Linked DNA regions of Homo sapiens: regions 2, 3, 4, 5 and 6 are each linked to region 1. The links come from fine-mapping of genetic effects on gene expression. A gene starts in region 1. Each other region holds a variant in brackets. All regions are shown on one strand. Distances are from middle to middle. Region 1 holds the start of LPGAT1 (lysophosphatidylglycerol acyltransferase 1). Region 2 overlaps DTL (denticleless E3 ubiquitin protein ligase adapter). Region 3 has its middle 58 kb from the start of MIR3122. Region 4 has its middle 63 kb from the start of NEK2-DT. Region 5 overlaps DTL (denticleless E3 ubiquitin protein ligase adapter). Region 6 has its middle 20 kb from the start of NEK2-DT.

What was found. PIP is the estimated chance that this variant, and not a neighbour inherited with it, causes the effect. A credible set is the group of variants that fine-mapping cannot tell apart.
Region 2: its variant is the best candidate, but not a certain one, in a credible set for the expression of LPGAT1 in whole blood (INTERVAL, PIP 0.84).
Region 3: its variant is the best candidate, but not a certain one, in a credible set for the expression of LPGAT1 in whole blood (TOPMed, PIP 0.86).
Region 4: its variant is the best candidate, but not a certain one, in a credible set for the expression of LPGAT1 in spinal cord (GTEx, PIP 0.54).
Region 5: its variant is the best candidate, but not a certain one, in a credible set for the expression of LPGAT1 in whole blood (INTERVAL, PIP 0.67).
Region 6: its variant is the best candidate, but not a certain one, in a credible set for the expression of LPGAT1 in lymphoblastoid cells (GENCORD, PIP 0.56).

The regions. Positions count from the first base shown.
Region 1 is chr1:211,827,881-211,833,107 of GRCh38, reverse strand. LPGAT1 (lysophosphatidylglycerol acyltransferase 1) reads left to right here and starts at 2,345. Exons shown (of 8, transcript NM_014873.3): 1 at 2,345-2,535; 2 at 3,785-4,049. The coding sequence starts at 3,812. LPGAT1-AS1 (LPGAT1 antisense RNA 1) reads right to left here and starts at 2,147. Exons shown (of 6, transcript NR_135820.1): 1 at 2,068-2,147; 2 at 1,696-1,852. RefSeq lists a silencer at 2,161-2,920.
Region 2 is chr1:212,043,140-212,048,366 of GRCh38, reverse strand. It overlaps DTL (denticleless E3 ubiquitin protein ligase adapter), which reads right to left. Exons shown (of 15, transcript NM_016448.4): 3 at 3,609-3,707; 4 at 1,155-1,216; 5 at 950-1,070. Among named protein-coding and RNA genes, the nearest start is that of DTL, 10 kb to the right of the region's middle. The variant A/CAAA (reference allele first, on the strand shown) is at 2,443.
Region 3 is chr1:212,133,227-212,138,453 of GRCh38, reverse strand. No RefSeq gene overlaps it. Among named protein-coding and RNA genes, the nearest start is that of MIR3122, 58 kb to the right of the region's middle. The variant G/T (reference allele first, on the strand shown) is at 2,940.
Region 4 is chr1:211,736,381-211,741,607 of GRCh38, reverse strand. No RefSeq gene overlaps it. Among named protein-coding and RNA genes, the nearest start is that of NEK2-DT, 63 kb to the right of the region's middle. The variant CG/G (reference allele first, on the strand shown) is at 2,140.
Region 5 is chr1:212,095,568-212,100,794 of GRCh38, reverse strand. It overlaps DTL (denticleless E3 ubiquitin protein ligase adapter), which reads right to left. Exons shown (of 15, transcript NM_016448.4): 14 at 1-543. It also overlaps the pseudogene RN7SKP98. Among named protein-coding and RNA genes, the nearest start is that of MIR3122, 21 kb to the right of the region's middle. The variant T/AT (reference allele first, on the strand shown) is at 3,206.
Region 6 is chr1:211,693,269-211,698,495 of GRCh38, reverse strand. No RefSeq gene overlaps it. Among named protein-coding and RNA genes, the nearest start is that of NEK2-DT, 20 kb to the right of the region's middle. RefSeq lists an enhancer at 2,738-3,237. The variant A/G (reference allele first, on the strand shown) is at 2,215.

The sequences.
Region 1 (5,227 bases):
TAAAATAGGCTATGGAACAATCTCAGGAGGCTTCCTAAGTGGTTGAAAGGAGGCAGGGCAAAAAAATTGTAGTATAGGCAAGAGGAAGGTAAAACTAACTAAAACGAACTTCGAAATGCAAGAAATAAACACAAGCATCATCTGAAATTGTTCCCTTAAGAAGTCAGCCCTAACAGTTTCTTATCTATTATAGCAGCTGAATTATCTTGAAACTGATATTGTGGTCAGAAAGTTAAGAAGATAACCCCTCTCCTACACTCTTGGCACAAAACCAGGGCATATCTATACCTGGAACATAATGTGTTGTACTGTTGGTTGAGTTTCAAGAAAAGTCCAATGAGGTTGGAAGCAGTTAATATGAGGATATCTGAAAAGATCAAGGAGATTAGGTATTCCCTACTCCTTCCATAAGGAGGTACTGAAATGGCAGAATTCTGCAATGAGAGATGGTGATCAGCAAGCCGAGGGGACAGGCCTCAGAAGAAACCAGACCTCCCCACACTTTGATCTCTGATCTTGGCCTTCAGAACTTCGAGAAAATAAGTTTCTGTTGTTTAAGCCACCCAGTTTGCAGTATTTTGTTATGGCAGCTCTAGCTGACTAACACACATGAGAACACATATGATCAAATGATTTAAAATTATGAAGGGTCTAGAAGAGAATGTGATCATCTCAGAATACCTCTAAGTCAGGGTTTCTTAAAGCAAGGTCTGCATACTACTTGCATCAGAATCACCTATGACGCTTTTTAAAAAGCAGGTTCTCAGGTCCACTGGACCTAGATTATTAAAATGTTCTGGTATGATGCTGAAGAATCTGTCTCTTTGGTAGACACTTCAAGTGTTGTTTTTGTACACTAAAGAGCCAGAGGTCCTGCCCAACCTCTGGCTCTTTTCTGAGCCTGAAAATGAATTCTGGGCCTGGTACTAATTGCATTTCATCAAGTGCTGCTGTGTCTGGTCCTCTGGCAGATGGTCCCTGATCCAGGAATCACGTGTAAATCCCATTGTAGGTTATCTCTCTCCAGGTGTCAGCCAACGTTTACGCAGCATGTGGGAAAGCTGAATTGCATGGACCAGATGGAATCCTTAGAGTTTATTCTTGATTGTGGAAATAAATATGTACCTCACCTATCTTACTGAAGAATATAATGACATATTTTGAATAATAAAGTATATATATTATCTCTCTCATGAGATTTATTTAAAGATCTTACTACCTTGTCAATAAAGAGAGAATGCAAGGAATAGAATGGGGCATATCTTTCCTTCACCTGTGGACCTAAGAGGAACTGAAATTAGAGAAAGTTGAGAGTCCAGAGCAAACGCTGTGATGAACATTTTCAAAATAGGCAGAATAGGTGGCATTCTGATTCAAATATGGCAGTTCCCTAGGGAGTGTGAAATCTGCCCTGCCCCATCCCCTCCATTTACAAATGTGCTTAAGGGACATAAGGTTTTATAAACAGGATTTTTAAAAACTAAAATTTAGGCAGATCATTTAAGAATGCTCAAGGGGGTAGGTCAATGGACTATTTCTCTATTTTCCTTCAGGTGGTCCAGCCTTTGAACCAGAATGCAGCTATAGTATCCCAAGTGACGGGGTCTGTCTAGGAGTTCCCATGGCCACTGTTTTTTGTCTTTTCGGTTTTTCTTTTTATGGCGGGCGGGGGAGGGCGGGCGGGTGAGTACTTACTTAATGCCAGGCACTTGGTTGTTTTTTCCTTCTTGACTAACCAGATTTCAGTTTCTCTGTGTAGACCATTCATTCCCACTGAGTTTCTTGGTGGGGTGGTGGGGGCGGGGGCGATGAATGGGAAAGTGGAATTGCCATTAATGTTCCAGCTGCTTTCCTGAAACAAGACTTTTGACCGTAAAAAGAATGAATTTGAAACTCTAGACAATAATACACTGCAGAGGTTAAGAAGAAAAGCCATGAGTGCAACCGGGTTTCATTAAGAATGAAAAGTGGACATTTAGCCGTCAAGGAGACAGGTTCCTAGTTTGGGCAGAGAAGAGAGCCCTAACAATGAAAGGCGGCCGTGTTGGCTGAAAGGGGGCTCTCAACTGAAACCAAGGCACTCCTGGGGTGTGAGGATGGGTGTTCATTCCTAGATCTTTCCGAGCGGCCCTTTCCCTCAGTATGTTCTGGACTCACTGAGGTCCTGGCCGAGCGTCCAGGTAGCCCCGAGGGCCCCGACTCGCTGGCGCAGGGGTAGGGGGAGCGGGCCAGGCGGGGCAAGCGGGCCAGGCAGCGGCGGCGGCGCTTTCATTAGAGGGCGCTGTGGGAGCGGCTCCGCCGCAGTCCCGACTCCCGCCGCTTCCTCCCGCCGCCCCTCCCCGCCAGTCCGGGCGAACGCGGCCGGGCCCTTGGGGACCGAGTCTCGGCGCCGCCGGGGAACGGGCGCGGGCCGCGCCACAGCCGGAGCGGGGCAGGGCCCCGCCACCGCCTTCTTCCGCCGGCCCCGCCGCCGGCCATGCATTCTTCCGGCTCCTCTGACTCCCAAAGCCCCGGCTGGGGCCCGGCCAGCCCGAGGTAACCTCCGGCTCCGCGGTCGCAGGCCCCAGAGCGGCAGCGGAGCCGGGCCAGGGGAGGCGCTGGGGGCGGGGAAGGGGGTGTCGTCGTCGCGTGGCCCGGGGAGGCGGCAGCGGCCTGAGGGACGAGGGCGCGGTAGGCCCCGGGGAGGAGGCGGGGGCGCGGGGCATCCGCCCGCCTCCCCGGGACCCGCCCGGGTGACAGGTCCGGCCTCTGAGTCCCCGCCGTCCCTCTGTCCGCAGGCAGCCGCGAGGGGAGTAGGGCGCCAGCGCGCCCGCTCGCGCAGCGCCTCGGGCCGCTTGGGCCGCCACCGCGTCCATGACCGCGACCCCTCGGCGGGGGACACCCGCCCCCGCTCTCCGCAGCCGCCCGCCGTCCGCGCCCGCCGAGGTGAGCCCGGCGCGCGGGCCGCGCCCGCCGCCACGACCCTTCCACATCCGCGGAAACCGCTGCAGGCTCCACCGGCTCCCCGCGCTGCGGTCGCCTCTTCTCTGCCCCTTTCATCATCCCCTGCTTCCTTGCCCTCTGGTCGGAAATCTCATTCTCTTCATCCCCAGTTCCTTGGCTTTTACCTCTTTCTGGCTTTTGCTCCCTTCCCCCTACTCCTGTCCTTCCTCTTTTTCGCATTATAACCCCCTACTTTCTTCCTCTCACCTTGTAAGCTTTTTTTCTAGGCCCCCCATTTTTTTTCTTAAAAAAAAAAGGGAAACAAAAACCCTATTGCTACAAATGAGAATTTTGAGGGTAACTCTTCGCTAGAGCCAGAGACCTTTTAAAGGAATGCATCGGTGTGCAGGAATCGTGGTGGTGAGGAGACTGAGGTCCTCAGTATCTGGGAAATCTTATTGAGGGGACCCTGTTTCGGTCATGTCACTTGTGTCTTCAGTTTGGAGATCCTGAGGTTGTCTGAAGCGAGTGGATCTATTTTTCTAAGTCCAATAGACGACCGCAGTGAGACACGGTGCGGGGACGGCCACCGATTACTGAATGGGAATTGTGTTATCATTTGCTAAATATATTGTGACATACTTCGTGCCTCGGTGAACAGCTCCCTTGACCTTGTGCGGCTCCTCCTCCCTCGCTCTCTGTCCCCCTCTGGAATTTCCCCTGAGAGATCACCGAGGTACTACACCCGGAAAGCTTCGACCCTCGCTGTTTTATTTTGTGCTGGGGGCGATTTCTATGTTGGTGACTGTTTAGATGTATTTAATGAATTTTCCTTTTTAAGTGAATTTTTCTTTCACCCCAGAAAGACAGGACGGAGTCCAGTGTGAGAATGGCTATAACTTTGGAAGAAGCTCCGTGGCTGGGCTGGCTCTTGGTGAAAGCACTGATGAGGTTTGCCTTCATGGTCGTCAACAACCTGGTTGCTATTCCATCCTACATCTGCTATGTAATTATACTTCAGCCCCTTCGAGTGCTGGACAGTAAGCGGTTCTGGTATATCGAAGGAATCATGTATAAATGGCTTTTAGGAATGGTAGCTTCCTGGGGATGGTATGCTGGATATACAGGTAAGAGTGAGAACACTTTTCTTTAATGCATAAGAAAAAATTTGTCAGGAACCATGATTAAATGTATATTACACTTTGGGTTGAGGATGCTTTCATGTCTTCACTATTGAAAAAAATAAAAAGAAAACAGTTCTATTGGGTTTCTCTTCAGAATCTCAGGAAGACCAATGTTTTCAGAAGTATAATTTCATAATTATGTATTGGTAAATTTCTTAGTGTTTTTATTGTGATTGACATACATTTATTAAAACTGGTCTGCAAAAGCTCTGGTAGAGGAATAGGAGTGCGTTGTATAGGACTCGAGAGCTTATAAAGTGAAGATGTAAGATATTTCATCTATTTCATGGAAGATGCCCATAAACATTGGAAATTTAGAAAAAGAATGGGACCATATTTGTGCTAAGATAGTTTAATAAGTTTCTTCATCATTTAACGTGATATTGTACTGTTAGCCTTTTGAGCAAGCAAAAATGGCTTTCTTTTCTCTTACGTATGTTTCTTTTGTTTATTAGAATCTATATTTTATCTCATAAATCTGAGAGTATTAAATATAAAAAATTAAGTTAACTTTGTTAAGCTAATTTATCTTCTGAGTGTCTTTAAATAGATTGTGATTTCTGCCTTTAAATTGCATTTGGGGAAGCAAGAGTAACACTATTCAGAAGTGGACTTTTATAGAACTAAATGAGAAGTGTTTATTTTCTGAGATAAACCTTATATGCTTTGAGAACTTATGCCCTTGCTGTGAAAATTCTGTATCGTTTATTGTATTTATTTGATTTTTTTCCCTTAAGAATTAAGATAATGAAAAAATCATAGAGGTTTTTAGCACTTGTCAGATGTGGAGGCTTTTAGCACAGAAATTCCTACCTGATAGGCAGGCTCCTTGAAGATCATGCAGATGCTGTGGTCAGTAGAGGCTGTAGTTCATAGCTTGGCAGAGTGAGGAGGGGTACTCCCAGGGTCAAGCAGTATGGCAGTTCTCCATCTGAAATTCTGTCTCCCTCTTTCCTGCCTAGGCTGCACCTGCACATTTTATCCACACACGCAAGAGAAGGACTGATAGTATACAGCTTTTATGGAGTCTGACAGACCCTTGCTATGTCTGAGTATTCTCAGTTGCCCCAGATGAAGCCTTTTCTCCTTCAGGCAGTGGCATTTATTTATTTATTTCTCCT
Region 2 (5,227 bases), 220 kb before region 1:
ACAAAAATTAGCTGGGCGTGGTGGCAGGCTCCTGTAATCCCTCCCAGGTACTTGGGACGCTGAGGGAGAGGATTGCTTGAACCCGGGGGATGGAGGCTGCAGTGAGCTGAGATCGAGCCTCTGCACTCCAGCCTGGGTGACAGAGACTCCGTCTCAAAAAACAAACAAACAAACAAAAAACAAAAAACAGGCCATTTAAACCAAATACATGATAAATTTTTAGGTAGAAAAAAATTATGTTGTTTATCAGCCTTATAGCTCATTTAGATTTTACAAGCAGAGTTAAAGTAACTCTGTTTTACAAATAGTTAATGAGTGCCCAGTACAAGGTTTTAACTTCAATGAACAATCAAGGTTGAACAATGGTATTGTAGCTGTTTATAAATCTTTACCTTATGTGCAAGATTACAGAAAAACTTATCAAAGACTCTTGACTTTCAGGGACAAGCTAGAGATAATGTCCAGAAGAGTGGGCCTAAAACCAATTTAATTTTATTAAGGTTTTCAGTCATGTTAGAATCTTAATCACCTGGCTGGGTGCAGCGGCTCACGCCTGTGATCCTAGCACTTTGGGAGGCTGAGGCAGGTGGATTGCCTGAGCTCAGGAGTTCTAGACCAGCCTGGCCAACATGGTGAAACCCCGTCTCTACTAAAAATACAAAAATTAGCTGGGCATGGTGATGTGCGCCTGTAGTCCCAGCTACTCCGGAGGCTGACGCAGGAGAATCACTTGAACCTGGGAGGCAGCGGAGGTAGCAGTGAGCCGAGATGGCGCCACTGCACTCCAGCCTGGGCAACAGAACGAAACTGTCTCCAAAAAAAGAATCTTAATCATCTATGTAGGTAAAGCAGTAACTTTGACAGGGGAAAGGGTAGAAACAATTACAGGTTCTTATCTCCCAACTGCAAAGAAGGTTAAGGAGATGAAAGAAGATAAGCACAAACCTACCTTTCTCAAACTTAGAAAAGGCAACTGACTTGAGGCTGCATTGATGACCTTTGCATGTTCCAATCAGCTCACCAGCTTTTACGTCCCAAAATTTGGCTGTTTGATCACCTGCTGCTGTAACCTTTCAAAAATAAGGTAAACACAATTTAATAAAGCACTCCCTTATCAGTATTTACCCAGATCCTAATGAAATAAAGTCACTTACAAGTTTAAGTTCACCAGGAACCCAGGCCAGGTCAAAGACGGCATTCCAGTGAGCCATCCATTCTAAACAAAGAAAATGGTAAATGTGAAATGTCTAAATTGTATTCTGTGGTACCCATATTAATATAACTTTAAATGCCTGGAAAGCTGTAGTAGTAAAAAGATCAGTAGTTGATCATTAGAGAAATGCAAATCAAAACCACAATGAGATATCATTTCACGTCAGTCAGAATGGCAATTATTTAAAAAGTCAAGAAACAACAGATGCTGGCAAGGCTGCGGAGAGATAGCAACAGTTTTACACTGTTGGTGGGAATGTAAATTAATTCAACCGTTGTGGAAGACAGTGTGGCGCTTCCTCAAAGACCTAGAACCAGAAATACCATTTGACCCAGCAATCCCATTACTGGGTATATACCCAAAGGAACATAAATCATTCTATTATAAAGATACATGCATGCATATGTTCACTGCAGCATTATTCACAATGGCAAAGACATGGAATCAACCCAAATGCCCATCAATGATAGATTGGATAAAGAAAATGTGGTACATATACACTGTGGAATACAATGCAGCCATAAGAGGAATGAGATCATGTCCTTTGCAGGGACATGGATGGAGCTGGAAGTCATTATCCTCAGCAAACTAATGCACAAACAGAAAACCAAACACCGTATGTTCTCACTCATAAGTGGGAGCTGAACAACGAGAACACATGGACACAGGGAGGGGAACAACACACACTGGGGCCTCTTGAGGGGGAGCATGGAGAGGGAGAACATCAGGAAAAATAGCTAATGCATGCTGGGCTTAATACCTAGGTGATGGGTTGGTATGTGCAGCAAACCACCACGGCACATGTTTACCTACGTAACAAACCTGCATGTCCTGCACATGTACCCTGGAACTTAAAATAATAAAAATAAAGATGCACACATAAAAAATCAGTAGTCAGCACCCTTTGGCATGAGCAAAGAGAATTTGTGGACTCACAGAAATTACACATTCCCTTAATTACCACATGAGAACTACTACCATCTGATGTCAAATTCCTTTCCATGAGTTCACTAGTAATATATTCTCTACAATGGAATCTTTCTGAAATATATTCCAGTTCAAAAATCTTCATGATACTGGCTGGGCACAGTGGCTAACACCTGTAATCCCAGCACTTTGGGAGGCCAAGACAGGCAGATCACTTGAGGCCAGGAGTTAACCAGCCTGGCTAATGTGGTGAAACCCCATCTCTACCAAAAATACAACAACAACAACAACAACAACAACAA[A/CAAA]ACCAAAAACAAAAAGAACTTCATGATGCTCTCTGAATGGAATGTAAAATACTTTAGTTTGACATTCAACATTTTGCATTCTTTAGTCTTTATCTTGGTTGCAAGCCTCATCTCTCACTGTTCTCGATACCTTATTCCAAACAAATTGGTCACTTCCTATTATATCCTATGCTTTTCTATCTCTAGACCTTTGCTAATGCTTTTCCCGTCACCTGGAGTGCCCCCTTCCATTTCCACTGGTCTAAATACCATAATCCAACTCAAATGCCCCATGCTTCGTAAGTTTTCCTAGCCTTCTTTACTACATGAGAGCTTTCTCTTTGACACCAGTGTGTTTTCTTTCTACTTCTACATCATTTATAGTCTTTGTTTTATTTCAGTTATTTCAACACTTGACTTATGGGTTCCAAATTATCAGCTTCTTAAGGTTAGAACTTTGCTTTAAACATGAAAAATGCTTGATTAATATAAGTATTTTAAAGCAACACTTCTCTAATCACATTAAGTGTTAAAGATTTAACTTTTTGAAGAATTGTTTTTAATCCTAAAAAGTATTTTTCTTAACTTTGAGTAAAGGCATTGTCACAGTTAACAGTTATTGACAGATAGGCAGTCCACCATTCACATCTAATCTGGTCCCTAAAAAGACTTAATCAGAAGTTAATATCATTGGGAATGTGTTATATATACTACAGATGTTTGTCCCTTCCCAAATCTCATGTTATAATTTAATCCCCAAAGTTGGAAGTGGGACCTAATGGGAGGCATTTGGGTCATGGGGGTGGATCCCTCATGAACAGATTAACGCCCTCCCTAAGAGGTGAAAAGATGAGTGAGTTCTCACTCTATTAGTTCCCTGGAGAGCTGATTGTTAAAAAAGAGCTTGGTAGTACACCCTTCTCTTGCCATGTGACCTCTGTATTCATGGGCTCCTCTTTGCCTTCTGCCAGGAGTGGGGGCAGCCTGAGGCCTTCACCAGATGTCTACTATTCTAGCCAGCAGAATCACACACCAAGTAAACTTTTTCTATATAAACTACCCAGTCTCAGTTATTCCTTTATAGCAACAGAAGACAGACTAAAACAGAATGTGTTCAAATAATAATATACTTGAGGATGTGTAAAGTTTTTTAAATGTTAAAACAAAAATTGTAGACCTAGACTTACCTTTGAAGCACTTCTTTCTGAAACTTTGTGATTCTGTGTTATACAATCGAACAAAGCCTTCTTCATTGGCAACTGCTAGTACATGTTCCATATTGGGAGCTAAAGCAGAAATAAAGAAAAAAATATATAGAGTAACACAATTTTTTTTTTTTTTTTCAGACGGAGTCTTGCTCTGTCACCCAGACTGGAGTGCAATAGTGCAGTTTGGCTCACTGCAACCTCCACCTCCTGGGTTCAAGTGATTCTCCTGCCTCAGCATCCCAAGTAGGTGGGATTACAGGCATGCGCCACCACGCCCAGCTAATTTTGTATTTTTACTAGAGATGGGGTTTCACCATGCTGGTCAGGCTGCTCTCGAACTCCTGACCTCAAGTGATCCACCCACCTCAGCCTCCCAAAGTGCTGGGATTACAGGCGTGAGCCACCATGCCTAGCTACAAAAATTTTTAAGCTTACTCAAAACCACCAAAATTTTCTTCAGATAATCTCTTATTTAGAGAAGGGCTAAATCGAGGGTAGTACTTAAAACAAGAGTGGTACTGGCCAATGGCAAACAAAGGCATATGATGATGTAGGCTGCCAGCAGGCTGAGTCTATTAGTTTTTTTAACCATATTTTTATTTACTTATTTTTACCACAATCATGACTATGTAATAGTCTATTAGTTTTTGAGAGACAGTCTCGCTATGTCACCTAGGCAGGAATGCAGTGGCGTGATCTCAGCTCACTGCAACTTCCGCCTCCCAGGTTCAAGCGATTCTCTTGCATCAGCCTCCCCAGTAGCTGGGACTACAGGCATGCACCACCATGCCCGGCTAATTTTTATAAGGAGTCTATTAGTTTTAAATTTCCTTGTCACAACTTTTTCTTTCCTCTCAAACTATTATGGGTGGAGACAAATACTTCTATTTCTTTTTTTTTTTTTTTTTTGGAGATGAAGTCTCACTGTCACCCAGGCTAGAATGCAATGGCACGATCTTGGCTCACTGCAACCTCTGCCTCTCAGGTTCAAGTGAGTCTCTTGTCTCAGCATCCCAAGTAGCTGGGATTACAGGGGTGCGCCACCACGCCCAGCTGATTTTTTGCAATTTTAGTAGAGATGGGATTTCACCATGTTGGCCAGGCTGCCTTGAACTCCTGACCTCAAGTGATCCACCCGCCTTGGCCTCCCAAAGTTCGGGGATTACAAGTGTGAGCCACTGTGCCCAGACCTACCTTGGCGTCCTAAAGTGCTGGGATTTTAGGTGTGAGCCACTGAGCCTGGCTGAAGTACTTCTATTTCTGTTCATATATTCCCCAATGAGTCACAGAAAGATACATTCAACCAGATCAAAGGGTATGTATCTACTGGATAAAACAGTTTTCATAGTAGCTGAACCTTTGCAACCCCTTCCTTATATTGATTTTTTAAAAATAGTGCTATAATAGTCCTATGCTTTAGAGGAAATATAGTTATGCTAATGATGTATAGAGATTAAGAAAAGTCTATTTTATAAATCAGAAGATAACAGTTTTTACAAAAACTCTAACATCCACCTAATTTACTTTTCTTTGAAAGGGAAATACTCTAGTATATTTTCCCTATAAGTGTGAAATAGATCATTTCTGTCCAAGCCTTG
Region 3 (5,227 bases), 310 kb before region 1:
GTCTACACCTTGGTTGCTGGACCTATGTATTCTGCCCACTGGGGACACAGTGTCATATCATGGTTGTTGATTTAGGATGATACCCTAGAGGATGACACCTCAACTTTGTGGGATATCAACTCCAATTTGGCACCTCAGCTGCATCATTTTAAAATTGTTTTTTAATTTTTAATTTTATGGATACATAGTATATATTTATGGGGCACATGAGATATTTTGAAACAAGCATACAATGTGTAATATTCACATCAGGATAAATGGGGTATTTATCTCAGCACCATAGGAAAGGTTTTAAAAAATGGAGTAACTGTCACTTTAAGCATTCATCATTTCTTTGTGTTATGAACATTCCAATTGTACTCAGTTAATCTAAAATGTACAACAAATTATTGCTGACTGTAGTAACCTTGTGCTATCAAATACTAGATCTTATTCATTGTCTCTAACCATATTTTTGTACCCATTAACAATCATTTCCCTCTCCCCCTCCTGCCACGACTTTCCCCACTACCTTTCCCAGCTTCTGGTAATCACCCTTTTATTCTCTATCTCCATGAGTTCAGTTGTTTTAATTTTTAGCTTCCACAAATCAGTGAGAACATGTGAAGTTTGTCTTTCTCTGCCTGGCTTATTTCACTTAACATAATGTCCTCCAGTTCCATCCATGTTGTTGCAAATGACAGGATCTCATTCTTTTTTATGGTCGAATAGTAATCCATTATGTATATGTACCACATTTACTTTAGCCATTCATCTGTTGATGGACACTTAGGTTGATTCCAAATCTTGGCTATTGTGCATAGTGCTGCAATAAACATGGGAGTGCAGATATCTCTTTAATATACTGATTTCCTTTCTATTGGGTGTGTACTTAGCAGTGGGATTCCTGGATCATATGGTAGTTCTATTTTTAACTTTTTGAGGAACCTCCAAACTGTTCTCCATAGTGGTTGTACTAATTTACATTGCCACCAACAGTGTACGAGGGTTCCCTTTTCTCCACATCCTTGCCAAAAATTCCTATTGCATCTTTTGGATAAAAGCCATTTGAACCAGGATGAGATGATATCTCACTGTAGTTTTTATTTGCATTTTTCTGATAATCAATCATGTTGAGCAACTTTTCATATATCTGTTTGCCATTGATATGTTTCTTTTAAGAAAGGTCTATTTAGATCTTTTGCTTATTTTTAATTAGATTATTAGATTTTTCCCTATTGAGTTGTTTGAGCTCCTTATATATTCTTATTAATCCCTTCTCTGATGGATAGTTTGCATATATTTTCTCCATTCTGTGAGCTGTCTCTTCACTTTGTTGATTGTTTCCCTTGCCATGCAGAAGTGGTTTTTTTTTAATTTGTTTTTTGTTTTTTAGAGATGGGGTCTCATTATGTTGACTAGGCTGGTCTTGAACTCCTGACCTCAAGTGATCCTTCCATCTTAGCCTCCCAAAGTGCTGAGATTACAGGCATGAGCCACTACACCAGCCCTGTGCAGAAGTTTTTAATTTGAGGCAATCCCATTTGTCCATTTTTGCTTTGGTTGCCTGTGCTTTTGGAGTATTAAGAAATCTTTGCTCTGACCACTGTCCTGGAGAGTTTCCCCAATGTTTTCTTTTAGTATTTTCATAGTTTGAGGTATTAGATTTAAGTCTCTCTCTTTTTTTTTTTTTTTTTTTTTTAAGACAGTCTTGCTCTGTCGCCTAGGCTGGAGTGCTGTGGCACAATCTCAGCTCACTGCAACCTCTGCCTCCTAGGTTCAAGCGATCCTACTGCCTCAGCCTCCCCAGTAGCTGAGATTACAGGCGCACGCTGCAGCACCCGGCTAATTTTTTTTTGTATTTTAGTAGAGACGGGGTTTCACCGTGTTGCCCAGGCTGGTCTCGAACTCCTGAGCTCAGGAATTCCGCCCACCTCGGCCTCCCAAAGTGCTGGGATTACAGGCGTGACCCACTGCACCTAGCCAGATTTAAGTCTTTAATCAATTTTGATTTGATTTTTGTATATAGTGACAGACAGGGATATAGTGTCATCCTGCATATGGATATCCAATTTCCCCAGCACCATTTATTGAAGATATTGTCCTTTGCCCCATGTATGTTCTTGGCACCTTTGTCAAAACTGAGTTCACTGTAGATGTATGGATTTATTTCTGGGTTCTTTACTCTGTTCCATTGGTCTATGTGTCTGGTTTTATGCAAGTACCATGCTGTTTTAGTTATGATAGTTCTATAGTATAAGAAGTTGGGTAATGTGATTCCTCCCACTTTGTTCTTTTTGCTCAGGATGGCTTTGGCTATTCAGGGTCTTTTGTGGTTCCATATAAATTTTAGGATTGCTTTTCCTTTTTCTATGAAGAATGTCATTGATATTTTGATAGAGATATAGAGAGTTCATTAAATCTGTAGATTGCTTTGGGTAGTATGAACATTTTAACAACATTAATTCTTCCAATCCATGAACATGGAATATCTTTCCTTTTCTTGTGGCCTCTTCAATTTCTTGCATCAATGTCTTATAGTTTGCATTGTAGGGATCTTTCACTTCTTTGGTTAAATTTATTCCTAGGTATTTTATTTTATTCATAGCTATTGCAAATTGGATTACTTTCTTGATTTCTTTTCCAGGTTGTTCACTGTTGGCATATAGAAATGCTACTGATTTTTGCAGGTTCATTTCGTATCTTGCAACTTTACAGAATTTGTTTATCAGTTCTAATAGCTTTTTTTTCAGCTGCATCTTTAAGCAGCCACTCCATCACTCTATCAGGCCAGTAGCTTTGGGGTATGAGATAGAACTAGTGCATACCTTGGTCACGTGCCCACTTCCACACACCTTTTGCTGAAAAGTAAGGCCCTTGGTCCAAGCCAAGGTTATACTCAATCTCATGTCAGTGGAGCAAATGTTCTCTGGATACTGGTGTTGGCTGAGGCTCTACTG[G/T]TAAGAAAGGCAAATTCAAATTTGGAAGATCAATGTGGAATATGTTGTTTTAAAATTAAACTTTTATTTTTGAGATAATTGTAAATGCACATGCAGTTGTAAGAAATACTACACGTACCCTTTATCCAGTTTCCCCCAAAGGTAACATCTTGCAAAACTGTAGTACAATATCACAACCAGGATATGGGCATTGATACAACTACCCAAACTTATTCAGATTGCTCCAGTTTTACTTGCACTCATGTGTGTGTGTGCATGTGTTTAGTTCTATCAAATTTTATCACATGGTAGGCTTGTATATCCACCACCGCCATCAAGGTACAGAACAGTTCCCTTCCCACAAGGATCCCTGTGTTTGCCTTTTATAACACACTCATCTCTCCCTCCCTTTCCCTGTCCCTAACCCTTGACAACCACTAATCTGTTCTCCATTTCTACAATTTTGTCATTTCAAAAATATTTTAGAAAAGACTTAAAAAATTTTATTTTAAGTTCAGGGGTACATGTGCAGGCTTGTTATATAGGTAAACTCATGTCACAGAGGTTTGTTGCACAGATTATTTTGTCACCAGATATTAAGCCTAGAACCTGTTAGTTATTTTTCCTGATCCTCTCCTTCCTCTCACCCTCCACCCTCAGGTAGGCCTCAGTGTCTTTTGTTCCCCTCTTTGCGTCCATGAGTTCTTATCATTTAGCTCTCACTTATCAGTGAGAACACGTGGTATTTGGTTTTCTGTTCCTGCATTCATTGCTAAGGATAACGGTTTCCAGCTTCATCCATGTTCCTGCAAATGAAATGATCTTGTTGTTTTTTATGGCTACATAGTATTCCATGGTGTATATGTACCACATTTTCTTTATCCAGTCTAGCAATGATGGACATTTGGGTTGATTCCATGTCTTTGCTATTGTGAACAGTGCTGCAATGAACATACGTGTGCATGTGAGAATGCTTTATGTTCCTTTGGGTATATACCAAGTAATGGGATTCCTGGGTTGGAGGGTAGTTCTGTTTCTAGCTCCTTGCGGAATCACCACATTGCTTTCCACAATGGTTGAACTAATTTACACTACCATGAACAGTGTATAAGCATTTGTTCCTTTTTCTCTGCTCTCTGCAATCTTGCCAGCATCTGTTACTTTTTTACTCTTTTTTTTCTTTTTTTTTTTTTTTTTGAGATGGAGTCTCACTCTGTTGCCCAGTCTAGAGTGCAATGGTGCAATCTTGGCTCACTGTAACGTCCATCTCCTGGGTTCAAGCAATTCTCCTGCCTCAGCCTCCCGAGTAGCTGGGATTACAGTCATGCACCACCATGCCTGGCTAATTTTGTATTTTTAGTAGAGATGGGGTTTCTCCATGTTGGTCAGGCTGGTCTCGAACTCCCGACCTCAGGTGATCTGCCCATCTCAGCCTCCCAAAGTGCTGGGATTACAGGCGTGAGCCACCGTGTGTGGCCTATTTTTCGACTTTTTAATAGCCATTCTGACTGGTGTGAGATGGTATTTCATTGTGGTTTTGATTTACATTTTTCTAATGATAAGTGATGTTGAACTTTTTTTTTTGAGATGAAGTCTTGCTCTGTCGCCCAGGCCTCAGCCTCCTGAGTAGCTGGGATTATAGGTGCGTGCCACCATGACTGGCTAATTTTTGTATTTGTAGTAGAGACAGGGTTTCATCATGTTGGTCAGGCCAGTCTCAAACTCCTGACCTTGTGATCCACTCACCTTGGCCTCCCAAAATGCTGGGATGGCAGGCATGAGCCACTGTGCCTGGCCCAATGTTAAGCTTTTTAAAAGCATTTTTATGAAATGTTGGAACCATACAGTACAGAATTGACTCTTTTTATTCAGCATAATTGCCTGAAGATTCATCCAAGATGTTGCATTCATCAATAGTTCATTCCTTTTTATTGCTGAGTATCCCATGGTATGAATGTACCAGTTTGTTTAACCAGTCGCCCACTGAAGGACATCTGGGCTGTCTCCAGTTTTTTGGCTGTTATGAATAAAGCTTCTATGAACATTTGTATACAGGTTTTTTTGTGAACATAAGTCTTCATGTCTCTGGGATAAATGCCCAGGAGTACACTTGCTGGGTCATATGGTAATTGCACATTTGGTTTTATTAAAAACTGCCAAACTGTTTTCCAGAGTTTCTGTACCATTTCACATTCGCACCAGCAATGTATGACTGATCCAGTTTCTCCAAATCCCTGCCAGCCTTTGATGTTGTCATTATTTTTTAATTTTGTGTGTAGTGATATGTCATTATTGCTTTAATTTGTATT
Region 4 (5,227 bases), 92 kb after region 1:
AATTTTTATTAATGTTCCTCTCAGCTGCTGCAGAGATACAATTAACCATGAAAAAAGCCCTGAAATTAATTATTTTTTTTTTTTGGATGTGGAAGTGAAGTGCATTTTAAAAATTTTGCCCTATATAGTAGAAGATAAAAAGAACATTTTTATGTTAGACCAAAGGGGATACAGATTTCAATCTCATAATAGTTTCTTTCTTTTCTGAATTCTAGTGTGGAACTAGAGTAGGTAATAAATTCTAGGCCACGATGGCCACTAGTGCCCGAATATCCCTCTGTCATGGCGCCATCAAGTGTTAAGGGCTTGTCCAAGTAGGAGCCCAGGAGCAGCAGAACCGGGGACTTCAATTCGACCTTGGCCCTTTGGCAAGTTTCTTATCCTCTCAACCTCACTCTCCTTATGTGTTAAATGGGAAACGCTCAAAGACTTCTTTTTTTTTTTTTTTCTGAGACGGAGTCTCACTCTGCAGCCCAGAGTGCAGCCGCGTGATCTCGGCTCACTGCAACCTCTGCCTCCCGGGTCCCGGTTCAGTGATTCTCCTGCCTCAGCCTCCTGAGTAGCTGGGACTTCAGGTGTGCACCACCACACCTGGCTAATTTTTGTATTTTTATTAGAGACGGGGTTTCACCATGTTGGCCAGGCTGGTCTTGAACTCCTGACCTCATGATCCGCCCACCTTGGCCTCACAAAGTGCTAGGATTACAGGCGTGAGCCACCATGCCTGGCCAAGACTTCTTTTCAGTATTAAGTGAGATTATATACAGGAAGCACATAAGACACTGGCACATTGTACTGAATGTGCAGTAAGGAGGCTGTGTTTATCTCACCCCAACTGGGTTTAACAGAGGATGTAAGTTATTCTCATATTGAGATGTGCCTAAACTGCAAGTGATGTGTTCCATGCATACCCAATGCAGTGGCTCATGCCTATAACCCCAGCACTTTGGGAGGCCAAGGCAGGAGGATCACTTGAGCCCAGGAGTTTGACACCAGGCTGACAGGAGATCAGCCTGGCCAACATGGTGAAACCCCGTGTCTACTTAAAAAAAAAAAAAAATTAGCCAGGCATGGTGGTGTGTACCTGTGGTCCCAGCTACTCGAGAAGCTGAAGTAGGAGGATCACTGGAGCCTGAGAGAATTGAGGCTGCAATGAGCTGTTATCATGCCCTAGGTCTCTTGGTTTTTAAGTTAGACACATGCAATCAGCATAGCCAAGTCCCTAACCCCACACAGTCAGACTATATTTAATATATCTAAGGCTCCAGACAGCAGTGAGAAAAAGCTTTGAGGTTGGAGCGCCAATTAGGAAGGTGAGGAGACGGGGGCATAAAGAGGAAATCAGATCTACTAGACAAGACATTACATAGGCTTAATAGGGACCTATTTTTGCTTCTGAGACATGATGTCACTTGTGGTGAAGACCTTGAACTAATTATCAAAATGGAGGGAAATATAATTTCTAGTATTTGGAAGCTGTCCACCAGCCCACGGTTCTCTGTATAATTCATATGATTCTAAATATAAAACTACATTGAAAGTGTCCTAATGCTTCAGGAAATTGAAAGTAATTTTGAAAACCTTTCTCCTTTCTAGTTGCAGAAGTCTCAGAAGTTTATATCTTGAGAATTGACACTTTACCTTCCAGTGGTAAGTTCTGGGTGCTCAGTTCTTAGTGGGTATCAGAAGGAAGTGGGCAGATTAGAATAAGATATTGCTTATGGCTATTGAGGTTATCATGGTAGAGCACAAAGAAACGAGGCAAAGCTGGATTAGCAGGTGTGTATTCGAAACTCTGCCCTGCTGGGGGTGGGGGTGAGGAGATGAGAAGCAGGTGATGTTTCAAAGCCCCATCTGGCCCTAAGAGCCTTTGATTCCCCAGACAAATATCCAACAAGCTGTCCAGCCCACCATTCACGGAACTTCAGAGTAACACCAGAAATTGGGAATTCCAAGAGAGAGAGGCTTCAGGGCCATGATGAGGTTATGGAACAGTTCTCTTAGAGAAGATTTGGAAATACTTCAAACCATCATCTGGTGGGAAGCTTGGCATAAACAGCAACTCATGGATATGGAGATGGCTGCTCAGGCATTACGATATTCAGAGTGGTTCTGGGCTAGCTTATTATAAAGAAGACC[CG/G]TCCTTGTTTTCCCAAAGGATGGCTAGAAAAAGCAAGGGAATGAATGAGTTAATGAATGTGGAATTAATAAAGCATTTCTTCTTGGAGGCAGAGAAATGGAACAGCTGATTACTGAAAGCCAGCCTTCAGAATCTGTGCCATGTCCGATCAGGAATAATAATTGAAATTGTCATTGGAGCGATGTCTGAGGGATGCAGAAACCTGGTGTCACAGGAAGCATTGCCTCAGACTCTGTCTTCCTCTTTATTAGGCCTTGGAGAGGAAGGACAGCAGGGTTACCTCACCAGCCCAGCTCCAGCTCCCCTTCACCCCCCGCCCAGGTACCTGTCTGACTGCAGCAGGAGATTCTAGCACAGAGGGTGCCAGCAAGCAGGGGTGCTCAGAGGGTTTCTCATTTGAAAGGTATTTACTGTTAGGGGAGAGTGGGAGGAGAGGAGGGGCAGGCATGGGTGGGCAGAGCATAGGTACTAGGAATCTGCAAACCACAGACAAGAAGCAAGTGAAAGTAAAGATCTGAGGGTTTGCTGTAAGCTGCATTAGCAGGAGGAGCACTGGGCCTGTGGGAGTGGACACATGTGTCTCCTTCCAGGGGCTCCTGCCACAGCCTCAGCCTCAGACATCTCAAGGCTCAGTGTGTGTGTCTGTCTGCCAGTGTACCCCAGGGGGGCCTCATGGTGAGGCTTCCTCTGCCTGGGTTGCTCCTGGCATGGGCTCCAGCTTTTCCCCTCAACCCTGCAGCCCACTGGAAGACATAAGCTAAAGCTGGTGGGGACCTCCACTCTGGGTACCGTCCCTGCCCATCCCCTCTGGCAGTCGCTTTCCTAACTGACAGGTATTGGTGAAGTGCTCAGGATGTTCTTGGTGGGCGTATTTCCTCCAGGTGGGGGTGGCGTAAAAGCCACAGCCTTTTAGAAGCCTCTGTTTCTTTCCTTGACTGGCACTTTAAAAGGTGTGTGCTCTACCGTCATCACTAGGAGAGGGAGGCTCTGTGATCCTCCTTTATTCTCCCATCTTTCCACCGGGGTCTAATACATTTAACAAGCCTATGAAAAGGCTGCCTACCTCATGCCATTTTCTGACTGTTATTCAAAGTGAAGGACATCTGAAAAAAGACATTACATTACCTACAGCCCAGGGTGGAGCGGGGAGGGAATAATTTAGTACAAGGAATTAGGAGGCATTTTTTCTTTTTTGACAGGCTGAAAGGCTTCCTAGGTGAGATTTCCATCGCTGGTTGAAGGAAGGGAAAAGGCTGAGTGGGAGGTGCAAGGGCTGCTAATCTGAAAATTACCGGAATTTCCTTAATTTCCACTCTTTAGAAAATGTCTGCTGCACAAGGAGAGGGTGGTGAGAATCCAGTGAGATAATCCTCATGGAAGGGTTTGGAGAACCTTGTAACACTTCACCAGAGTGAGGGGCAATGACAATTCGAGTCCACGATAAAAAAATAAAATAAAATAAAAAAAGGCCCTTTCTTGTCACTAGAAGAATTCACAAAGAGGCTGGGTGAGCCTGTGCCAGGGTGCTGGGTGGGAAAACCCACTCTGGTTGGGGGATGGACCAGCTGGCCCCTAAGGCCTGTCTCCCCCTGGCCCCTAAGGCCTGTCTCCCCCCAGCCCCCAACTTCCATGCGCCGTTGTCACAGGGACCCTGATAAAAGCTCCCACTGTGCCTGGGTTTCTGTTGTGCTCAGAGGAGGGAAGAAACAATGAGCTCAGCTTGGCCAGAGGACAGGTCTCATTTTGCTCTCATCACTTACAGAGGCCTCTCCCCAAGCAGCAAACTACCAGGCAGGACCAGCTACGTTGTCTGTGTGACCCAGTACAAAATGAAAATGCGACTCCCTGTTCAAAGAGCATTACGAATTTCAAGTCGGCAACAGAAGAGCAGTAAAACGCAGGCACCTCATGAAGGCTGCCCTGTCATGAGAACCACGAAGGAGGAAATGAGGAATGGGAAGGAGCCAGGCCCCTGGGGGTGGTCCATGTCCCCTTGTTGTCCCTCCTGCCAAGGCACTGCACAAGATGTTCTTAGAGAGGAGGAGATGTGAGTAGCAAACTGTAGGGTGTGGAAGCTCAGCCCGCCAAGGCATCCCAGAACTGTGCCCTGAAGGCCAGGAGACCAGGCATCCACCGACCATCCCCCGGTGGTTAAGGGCTGCCCCTGCAGTGGGTGGAAAAGGCTCCCATGGCACCAGAGAAGCCTCAAGGCCTGAAGCTGAAAGGCCCTAGGTGTGGGAAAGATGCTGCCTGGGGTAAGCGTGAGTCCCACGGAGCAGGAGCCACCTGCCACAGGGCAGCTGAACACTGAGCCAAGGGAACATGGCCAGGGGCGCCTAAGACATCTGCACAGGGGCCACCAGACTTCCCGAGGAACCAGCCTCCCAGTGCAGCATGGGGTGGGGTCTGCAAGGTCTGTGAACAAAATAACATTTGTGGTGCTCTGTGAATTCACGTGCCCTTCCTTTCCTCACTGACTGCAGTTGTCCATTATTTGAGCTGCCCCCTTTCCCACCCACTGTGCAGTCACACCATGGAACCACAACCAGGTTGCACAAGAAAGCAGGACAAAGGGGTGGGATCAGTCAGCTAGTGTTTGCAGAATGTGTCTACTGGGTAGACTGGAAAGGGGCCTAGAGATGGGACACAAGCTCTGCCACCATTACAGTCACATGTTGACATGTGCAGATGGCATCACAGAGATTAGCTGTGGCGATGCTGAAGGGCTTTGGGGCAGGGGTTAATCCCTAGGGGCTGCCTAGAGAGGGAGGCACAAAGCTCAGGGAAAGGTTCAGAGCACATTTCACTGCTGGCAGAAGGATGCTGGAGACTCGTGCTGCCTCCATCCTCAGTCGCCCGGGCAGCAGCTCGCATCCAGGCTCCACCTGGCTGCCTGCCTGACACTGCTCTGGATCCAGCAGGCCAGCTCAGATCTCCTTGCCAAGTTCTTCCATCCCCAAGGCCCTCTTTCTTGGCCACATTTCCTCGAAACCACTTTCTAGGCCCTTGTTGCCTCCCACATTGTTCTGAGAAATGGGCTGGCAAACTACCCAGGCCAGAACCCCTGAATCTTCGAGCAGAGAAGCA
Region 5 (5,227 bases), 270 kb before region 1:
AGTCCTTACTAAGGTCTTCCTGGTTACCAGCAAGGCAGCACAGATCCAAATGAAGATTTTCAACTTGGCCATCAAGCTCAGTCACACAGTTACAACTCTTCACACACTTTTGTTTCACACTCTCCAGACAGCTTGAGTCTAGCCTCCTCTTTACTCTATTTCTAGACTCAGAGCAAGCCTCTGCTTGGGATGACTTCTGGCTCACAGGAATAAGGGCTTTTCTCGGAGACATGATCTTGGTCTCCGAAGCAGGTGGAGTGATGGGTGGTGATGAGGAAGGTGTTCGGGTCACCCAGTTTCTAATCGACATCTTGAAAGATGAAGGTGGCTTGGGAGAGACGGAGGAGACAGAGCCTCTTCTGTTGATGGGAGACCGGGCCTTGGCAGGAGAGGTTTTAATAGAGAACGTAGGAGTATTTGAAGGAAGAGGGAGGTCTCCAGCACAGCTTGGGGCACAAGCTGCGGATGACGGGGAAGAATTGGATGGATTGCACTTTGCCCTGGGGGCTTTGGCAGGAGTACTCTGGCTACTCGTTACTGTTACTGAAAAAGAGGAGAGGATCATGAAGATCAGAAGTGAAAGCCATACAAAGTCCCTAAATTCTCATCAAGAAAAATCATAGCTAACCTAATCATCTAAGGGTCAATTTGCCAGTAAGTAGGTATACATCACTTGATTCCAACCACACCCTTTTATCATTTTCCTTTCTCTTTTCCAAGTCACCAACCTCCCAACTATCCCATTATAAAATATATACTTGTAAAAATCGACAAAATACCGAAAAACATAAAGAGAAAAAATTTAAAGCACTTACGTAAACCATGTTTAGCATACTTTCTATATTTGTGCATGTGATACATACTATACATCTCAACTTTTTTCTTTACAAAAATGAGACTGATTTAAGGGGAAAGTGGCAGATAGGAGGCAGGACTAATTTGCCACTCAGACAGACAGAACAGCATGTGGAGACTCACATAGTGAACTTTGGCTCCAAGAACTATCACAGGAACATACCAGAAAAAACAAAAGAATTAACAGATCCTTTGAAAGAAGTGGCTTGCTGCTGCAAAATCCACAAGACAGCAGAAAAATTGAGTGCCCAAAGTGTGAGAGGGCTCCCGAAGCTGTGTGCTTGGTCGAAGAGGACAACCATTCCTGATAAGAGGAGAATCGGTCTTCAGTCAAGGGTATACGAGTAAATGTGCTCCCCTGCTAGAACCTCCAAACAAGCTCTCAAGGTCCAAAGTGTGAGAGGGTGGCTGGGTGTGGTGGCTCATGCCTGTAATCCCAGCACTATGGGAGGCCGAGGTGGGTGGATCACTTGAGGTCAGGAGTTCAACACTAGCCTGGCCAACATGGTGAAACCCTGTCTCTACTAAAAATACAAAAATTAGCCAGGCATGGTGGTGTGCACCTGTAGTCCCAGCTACTCAGGAGGCTGAGGCAGAAGAGTTGCTTGAACCTGGGAGGTGGAAGTTGCAGTGAGCCAAGATCGCATGCACTGCACTCCAGCCTGCCTGACAGCGAGACTCCGTTTCAAAACAAACAAACAAACAAACAAACAAACAAAAAACAGTGTGAGAGGGGTAAAGTCCACTTCTGCACACATCCTCACTGAGGATCCAGATCATGGGAGAAGGAGAACTGAAATGAATTTAGAGAGCCAAACAAAATATAAAAGTAGAAGCAGCAGCAGGAAGAGCCCTGTAGGCACTCCTGGTCCCCAGGGAAACCATTTCTGACTATCTCACAGGGGTCTTTGGAGAGGGCAGCCAATGGAATTGGGGAAGGACCATAGGGAGAAGGAGACTTTCAGCTGAACTTTGTAATGATTTCAACTGAGCGTGAATTTTCCTGGGCAGAATCTGCAGGGGGATGGGACAAATAGGAAGTGCAGATATGAGCACAGAAGCTGTGGCAGGCAGATGGACAAGGCCTAACAGCCCTGCTTGCTTTCTCGGCGGGGAGTTTTGTAGTCTAGGGCAAGATCTCCACCCTGTGCACTGGAGGCATGGATATAAATTTGGTTCTGTTGGCTGTTGGGGAAGCACTGCAGGAGTGAGACTGGCCTTGCTGGCTGTGGTCTGTCACTGCCGGCTTTCCCCTATTTCCCTGGTGATGTGTATGAAGCAGCAGAGGCAGCCATAATCTCCCTTAGAACGTAACTCCATTGGCCTGTTAACCACCACTCCCATCGCCCAGAGGCCACAGCAAGCCCTGCCCAAGGAGTCTGAGCTCAGACACACTATCCCTGCCCCCACCAGATGGTCTTTCTCTAACCGCCCTGGTAGCCGTAAACAAAAGACAAAAACTCGTGGGGCCCTGCTCATTGCCTGAGAAGCCCGAAAACCTATCCAGGAAACCGTAAGGCAAGCTTATATCCCCCGCTATACTACTGCAGTTGATACTCTCTTGAAAGTGCCACCTCCTGGCTGGAGGCCAACCAATTCAAGCCATTACAGCAATTCAACAGAACAACCCTGCTCCAAGAAAGCAGAAAATAACAGCTAATTCTACTGCCTGTAACATCTTGGCCAACCAGAGAGGTCCTGAGTCTGTCCATGTAATAACTTCAGTGCTAGTATAACTAGCATTCAAGACAACCAGTACACTAAATAAAACTACAACCAAGTACTCTCACACAGTCCACTTCACTCCTTTCCTACCACCTCCATTAGAGCAGGTGCTAGTATCCATGGCATACAGACCTGAAGACAGATCACATCACAGGACTCTTAGCAGACACTCTCCAGTACCAGCCTAGAACCCAGTAGCTCTGCTGGGTGGCTCGACCCAGAAGAGCAATAACAATCACTGCAGTCCAGCTCTCAGAAAGCCCCACCCCTAGGGAAGGGGGAGAGCACCACACCAAGGGATCACTCTGTGGGACAAAAGAATTTAAACAGCACACATTGAGTCCCAGATCTTTCTTCTGACATAGTCCACCCAAACGAGAAGGAACCAGAAAAACAATTCAGGTAATATGACAAAACAAGGTTCTATAACCACCCCTAAAAGATTATACTAGCTTACCAGCAATGGATCCAAACCAATAATAAATCTTTGAATTGCCAGAAAAGAATTTAGAAGGTCAATTATTAAGCTACTCAAGGAAGCACCAGAGAAAGATGAAAACCAACTTAAATTTAAAAATAAAACAAAACAGGATGTAGACGAAAAAAATCTCCAGAGAAATAGATA[T/AT]CATAAATAAAAAACAATCATGACTTCTGGAAATGAAAGACACATTTAGAGAAATGCAAAATACACTGGAAAGTTTTAACAATAGAACCAAACAAGTAGAAGAAAGAATTTTGGAGCTCAAAGACAAGGCTCTTGAATTAACCCAATTCAACAAAGACAAAGGCAAAAGAATAAAAACTTCTCTGGCCTTGCTCGAGATCTAGACATCCAAATACAAGAAGCTCAAAGAACACCCAGGAAATTCATCACAAAAAGATCATCACCTAGACACACAGTCATCAGGCTATCTAAAGTCAAGATGAAGGAAAAAATCTTAAGAGCTGGGAGGCAAAAGCATCAGGTAACCTGTAAAGGAAAAACCTATCAGATTAACAGCAGATACTCTACAAGCTAGAGGGGATAAAGGTCTTATCTTTAGCCTTATTAAATAATTATTAGCTGACAAAATAATTATCAGCCAAGAATTTTGTATCCAGTGAAACTAAGCTTCATAAATGAAGAAAAGATGAAAGTCTTTTTCAAACGCTGAGAGAATTTGCCACTACCAAGCCAGCATAGTTTACAAAAACTGCTAAAAGGAGTTCTAAATCTTAGAGCAAAACCTTGAAATACACAAAAATAGAATCTCATCTCATAGTGGGGGACTTCAATACAGTAAGTCAACATAGAAACAATGGACTTATACCCTAGAACAAATGGACTTAACAGGTATTTACAGAACATTCTACCCAACAACTGCAGAATATACATTCTATTCATCAGAACATTCATGGAACATTCTCCAAGATAGAGACCATATGATAGGCCACAAAACAAGTCTCAATAAATTTAAGAAAATCAAAATTATATCAAGTACTCTCTCAGACCATAGTGGAATAAAATTGGAAGTCAACTCCAAAGGGAATTCTTAGAACCATGCAACATTAAATAATCCGCTCCTGAATGATCTTTGGGTCAATAATGAAATCAAAATCAAGCTGGAAATTAAAAAAATTCTTTGAACTGAATGAAAAAAGTGACACAACCTAACAAAACCTCTAAGATACAGCAAAAGCAGTGCTAAGAGGAAAGTTCACAGCATTAAGTGCCTACATCAAAAAGTCTGAAAGAGCACAAATTGACAATCTAAGGTCACACCTCAAGAACTAGAGAAATAAGAACAAACCAAACCCAAACCCAGGAGGAGGAAAGATATAACAAAGACCAGAGTAGAACTTAATAAAAATGAAACAACAACAACAAAATACAAAAGATAAATGAAACAAAAAGCTGGTTCTTTGAAAAGATAAACAAAATTGATAGCCCATTAGTGAGATTAACCAAGAAAAGAAGAGAGAAGATCCAAATAAGTTCAATTAGAAATGAAACAGGAAATATTAACAACGAATACCACAGAAATACAAAAGATCATTCAAGGCTACTATGAACACATTTGTGCTCACAAACTAGAAAACCTAGAGGAGATGGATAAATTCCTGGAAATATACAACCTCCTAGATTAAACCAGGAAGAAATAAGAACTCTGAACAGACCAATAACAAGCACTTAGATTGAAATGGTAATAAAAAAATTGCCAAGAAGAAAAAGTCCAGGACCAGATGGATTCACTGCTGAATTCTATCAGACATTCAAAGAAGAACTGGTACCAATCTTACTGAAACCATTCCAAAAGAGAAAGAGGGAATACTCCCTAAATCATCCTATGAAGCCAGTATCACTCTAATACCAAAACCAGGAAAGGACATGACAAAAAAGAAAACTACAGACCAATATCCCTGATGAACATAGATGCAAAAATCCTCAACAAAATACTAGCTAACCAAATCCAACAGTATATCAAAAAGATAATCTACCATGATCAAATGGATTTCAAACCAGGGATGCAGGGAAAGTTTAATATACACAAGTCAATACATGTGATACACCATATAAACAGAATTAAAAACAAAAATCAGGCCGGGTGCGGTGGCTCATGCCTGTAATCCCAGCACTTTGGGAGGCCGAGGAGGGCAGATCACTTGA
Region 6 (5,227 bases), 130 kb after region 1:
CCCCAGGCATTTTAAAACAACAACAACAAGCTCTATAGAGCTTCTGATAAACACCCAAGTTGAGAACTGCAGGGTATTAAGATCAGAAATGAGGTGTCAAAAATAACTTCTAGCTAACAATAGTTAAGGTGCCAACACCTGTGAATCATTTGTCATTATATGCAAATTAGAGGCCCGTGGCAGTGGCTCACGCCTGTAATCCCAGCACTCTGGGAGGCTGAGGCAGGAGGATCACTTGAGCTCTGGAGCTTGAGACCAGTCTGGGCAACATGGTGAGACCCCGTCGCTACTAAAAATAAAAGCGAATTAGCCAGGCCTAGCAACGAGTGCCTGTAGTCCCAGCTACTGGAGAGGCTGAGGTGGGAGGATTGCTTGAGCCTGGAGGTCAAGGCTGCAGTGAGCTGTGATTGCTCCACAGCACTCCAGCCTAGGCAACACTGAGATCTTGTCTCAAAAAAAAAAAATTTCATATATATATATATATATATATATACACACACATATAAAAAATATAATGTATATATATAATATAATGTGTATATATAGAGATACACACACACACATATATATATATGTATGTATAATTAGAGCAGATATGAGGCCATTCCTCTCTTTCCCTTGCATTCTCAGAGAGAAAAGGCCTGTGTGGGGGCTCTGCTGGGTGCCCTACATGCCTGCAGCCCTCCTGAGCCTTGTTGGAGACTATCACTGATCTCTGCCCCAGTTAGGATGGTTTCAAATTGGTCTAGTCTAGTGCTTTACTGGCTTCCCAAAAGCTTTGGGCTAAGTTCAAATGGGGGACTCCCCTGGAAGTGTGCCTCAAAAGCAGATGTCATCCACACTGTGTTTCTCAGCAGGAAGTCTCCCCACCAGCACAGCTGTTCTCCACTGTGACAAGCATAGGAGCCCCCAGGGACTGTGCTGAAGAGCAGATTCTGATGAGCAGGGCCGGGTGGGGCCTGAGAGTCTGCATGTCTAATAAGCTCCCAGGGGACACCTTGTTGCTCTCCAAGGACCACATGTGAGGGTCTACACCACTTACTGACAATACTGCTCTAGCTATGACCAGCTGGAAAGGCTTCTGAAGAGGAGCTTCATAGCTAAGCTGACCAACCCTCTTGGTTTTCTTGGGGCTGAGAGGTTTGCCCAGACTTGAAACCTGGGATGGTCCCAGGGAGACCAGAATTCTTGGTTACCCTGTGCACAGCTGTGGCCCAATACAATTAGTTTAGGTAAAGCCTTGACATAGACGCCTGAGAAAGGCTCAAGAATGCTTACAAAGAAACAAACAAGGCATTGTAAATCAATCTAGTGTAGAAAAAATACTCTTAAAGCACCGAGGGAAGGTAGATTAAATTCAAGGTCATCATGAAACTGAGCTTCTTGAGAGCTGAGTTCTGAGTGGGATGGGATAGAAAAGGGATTAGGGAATGATCTAGGTTGGGATGAAGGAAAGGGCTCCCATTGCTATACATGCCCGCTTTGGTTAGCGCTGATTTCATGAAAAGCCAGGTTCATCTGAGTTGTCAGAACCTACAAATCATATTCAAGTGTGTGCTGTCATATTTGTATTAAATTCCTGTATCTATATATTTTAGGTCACTTTCTCTCCCCAAAAGCCATGGCAGTTAACCTGGCCCTAAACCTAAGTTGCCCTGGCCTCCCTGCCCAGGTGCCTTCTAGAGAATGTCACATAATGCAGTGGTTTAATGGACTTCCCTGGTGACCACAGCCCTGGTCTGGATGTGGTCCTGTCTGCCCTGCCATGTGCCATGTGACCTAGGTAGAAAGGGAGTCAGTGTCTACCTGTCTGTGCCTGTCCTCCTGCCCTTACAGGGATGGCTGAGGCATGAGGGCTCTGACAGCCCTGGAGACACACAGAACCTCACCAATATGGAAGAGTCTGGGAAAACCTTGGGGCCACCCTGAGAAGGCACTTCACAACAAAGACTGCACACAGTACTTTTTGGAGGGCAGCCATATTCTGGCCTATGGGTTTGGTTCCTAGAACTCGAAGTATGTGGGTTTCCTGAGTGTGTAAAATCCTGAGAGATGGTAATAAACCACACCCTTTGGGATGAGGTACAGAGAGCCTTCATATTTATAAAATATATGAGGCCAGGCATGGTGGCTCACACCTGTAATCCCAGCACTCTGAGAGGCCAAGGTAGAAGCATTGCTTGAGCTCACGAGTTTGAGTCCAGCCTGGGCAAC[A/G]TAACGAGAGCCTGCCTCTACAAAAATAAAATAAAATAAAAAGTTAGCTGGGCATGGTGGTGTGTGCCTGTGATCACAATTATTCAGGAGGCTGAAGTGGGAGGATTGCTTGAGTATAGGAGTTTGAGGCTGCAGTGAACTATGATTGCACCATTGCACTCCAGCCTGGGCAACAGAGTGAGACCGTGTCTCAATTAAAAAAAAAATATATATATATATATATATATGTATGCATGTATATGTGTGTGTATATATATATATATACATATGTATGTATGTATGTATGTGTGTGTGTGTATATGTATATATGTATATATACCGCTTTATTTCTTTAGCAGTGGTTAAGATTTGAACTTTGGAATCAGGCAGAACTGTAGGTCCAGCTCTGGCATTTTCTCACCCTCTAGAGCCTGGGTTTCCTCATCTGTAAAATAGAGATGGTAACAGTGCCTCCTCTTCGGGGCCTCTGGGCCTTGGCCGTCACACAATGCTCCTCCAAGAGCAGCTATGTTATCACTACTCTTATCTCACAGACAGCTGGAGGAGGGTCACGGGGGCAGCGGGCGCTCTGCAGGAGGCCTCCTTTAAGGGCAGTTGTCATTAGCACGCTGTTAGCAATGGGAAGCTCCAAGATGCTGCCAAACCACTTGAAAAGATGTGTTAGAAATCCCCATTTGGTAAAGAACAAAATTCTCAGTTCACAGAGCTTAGTCAATGCTTTTGTTGTCATTGTTGTTAATAAATGCTTTATTTTTGAAGAGTTTTAGATTTATAGAAAAGCTATAAAGATAGTACAGAGTTCCCATTTCTCACAGGGGTCCTGCACTGGCTCCCTGCTGGGGCGGGCTTGCAGTAGTCCAGTGGTTCAGTTTTGGTCTGGCTTCCTTTTTTCTGTGGTGACTGTCTAGCCCACAAGCTGAGTTATGGAGATGCTGCAGCTTTTCTGTTTGTAAAAATGACCTTGATCCCCGCCTACACTCGTTTCCTCTGTGTGCACAAACACACATGTGCACAGGCCCACCCACAGCATGCGGTCATGCAGTGTGAGGAGCACACCCACTGAGCTAGGCTCAGGTGACCCCTGACTGCTACCCCTTGCAGACCCAAGGTCGATCAGAGCCCCTGCAGAGGAAGCACTGTTACCATCTCGTGGCTTCTGGATGGTCCAGAGGGGGCTTTCTTGGAGATAAGTGAGCCAGACCTCCAAGAATCTGTAGGGTGGGTGGGCACATTTGGGTGTTCTCTTTTGCAGATGAGAAGTATTCATGGTGGCCTGAGGCTTGAGGCTTAAACACTATGAGCCTCAGTTTCCTTTTTTGGAAAATGGGAATAAACCAATGCTTCAGTCCTGGGAATGTGGTGAAGAGTGAAGGAGAAGCATGAGTAGCACCGGGCCTGGCACGGATGAGTGCGGTGCTTTTATCATTCCAGCTGTGTGGACCACACCAGCCACACCAGGTGGACATGTGGCCTCAGCTCACCAGATTCTCCTGCCCTCTGCCTCTGCCCAGGGTGGAGGGGAGTGAAGGCAGTGCCACAGCCCGGTACAGACCTGAATCATTGTATGCTTGACAGGCTCCAAGGCCTCCTTAAGTTAGGTCTTCACTCTGTGTACCATGACATTCCTCCAGAAAAACAAAAGTGCAAAGAACATCTTCTAATTTAAAACATGTTTTATGGTCGGGCTTGGCGGCTTATGCTGTAGCAGGATGAGCCGCAGACAAAAGTCCTCAAACTCTGAATTAAAGAAGGAAGGGGTTTATTCGGCCGGGGGCATTGGCAAGACTCCTGTCTCAAGAGCCGAGCTCCCCGAGTGAGCAATTTCTGTCCCTTTTAAGGGCTCACAACTCTAAGGGGGTGCACATGAGAGGGGCATGATTGATTGAGCAAGTGGGGGGTACGTGTCTGGGGGCTGCATGCACCGGTAATTACATCGGAACAAAACAGGATAGGGATTTTCACAGTGCTTTTCTATCCAATGTCTGTAATCTATAGATAACATAACCAATTAGGTCAGGGGTCGATTTTTAACTACCAGGCCCAGGGTGTGGCGCCGGGCTGCCTGCTTGTGGATTTCATTTCTGTCTTTTAGTTTTTACTTTTTCTTTCTTTGGAGGCAGAAATTGGGCATAAGACAATATGAGCGGTGGTCTCCTCCCTTATTCCCCCCCTTTGAGAATCTCACTCAATAGTGGGAGTTCTCACTTTCATTTTTACTTCCCATGTCTTCTTGCAAGACAGATCGATAGTGATTCACATAGTACATTGTGCTGAAGCATTTTGGTGAACTAAGGTAGTGATGAAGCTTTTTATCATTTGAAGAAGTACAGGTAGCAAACAAGGGAGCAGTAAGCAGGTTCCTATTACTATTATAACTCTTATTATAAGAGTTTTAAATCCTCTTAGTGCTGGGAACCATTTTCCAAACATGGCCCCAGGATCAAATCTATGCCACACTTGTACGGGCACATGTGCCAGTTTTGTCATATCTCTAACTATGTCTTCAACTACTTACCCTTGATTATCTATGTGTAGGCAGCAATTAGTAAGGTTAAATTTCCTGCAGACCTCTCCTTCAGCTGTAGTCGAGAGCTGATCTATTTTGATAGATAGCATTTCTCATCTGAGTTTCTTGCCAGGCCAGAATAGTCAAGGCTCTGCTGGTTTTACTAGTGATTATTTTTAAGACAGCTTGTAACCGTATGATTCGGTTGATCATGTAAATGGGGGTCCGGTATCCTCACGAGCTGTCTTGTGCCTAAGTAGCAGGCCTATAATATTGTATGATTCTCTCAGGGGGCCATTTATCATTTTTTCAATTTCCTATAGCTATGCTTCTCTTTTCGCGGGAAGCATAGACAGGGAAGCCCAGGAGTTCGCCTGTTTTTGTGGGCAGTAGGAAGAAAGATGGTTTAATAGTGCTAATAACACAACTACCTGCCTACTGGCCAGGTAATCTGGCATAAGCTGTTTGCCCACATATCCAGTATAATCCAGTGGGGGCTGTCCAGTC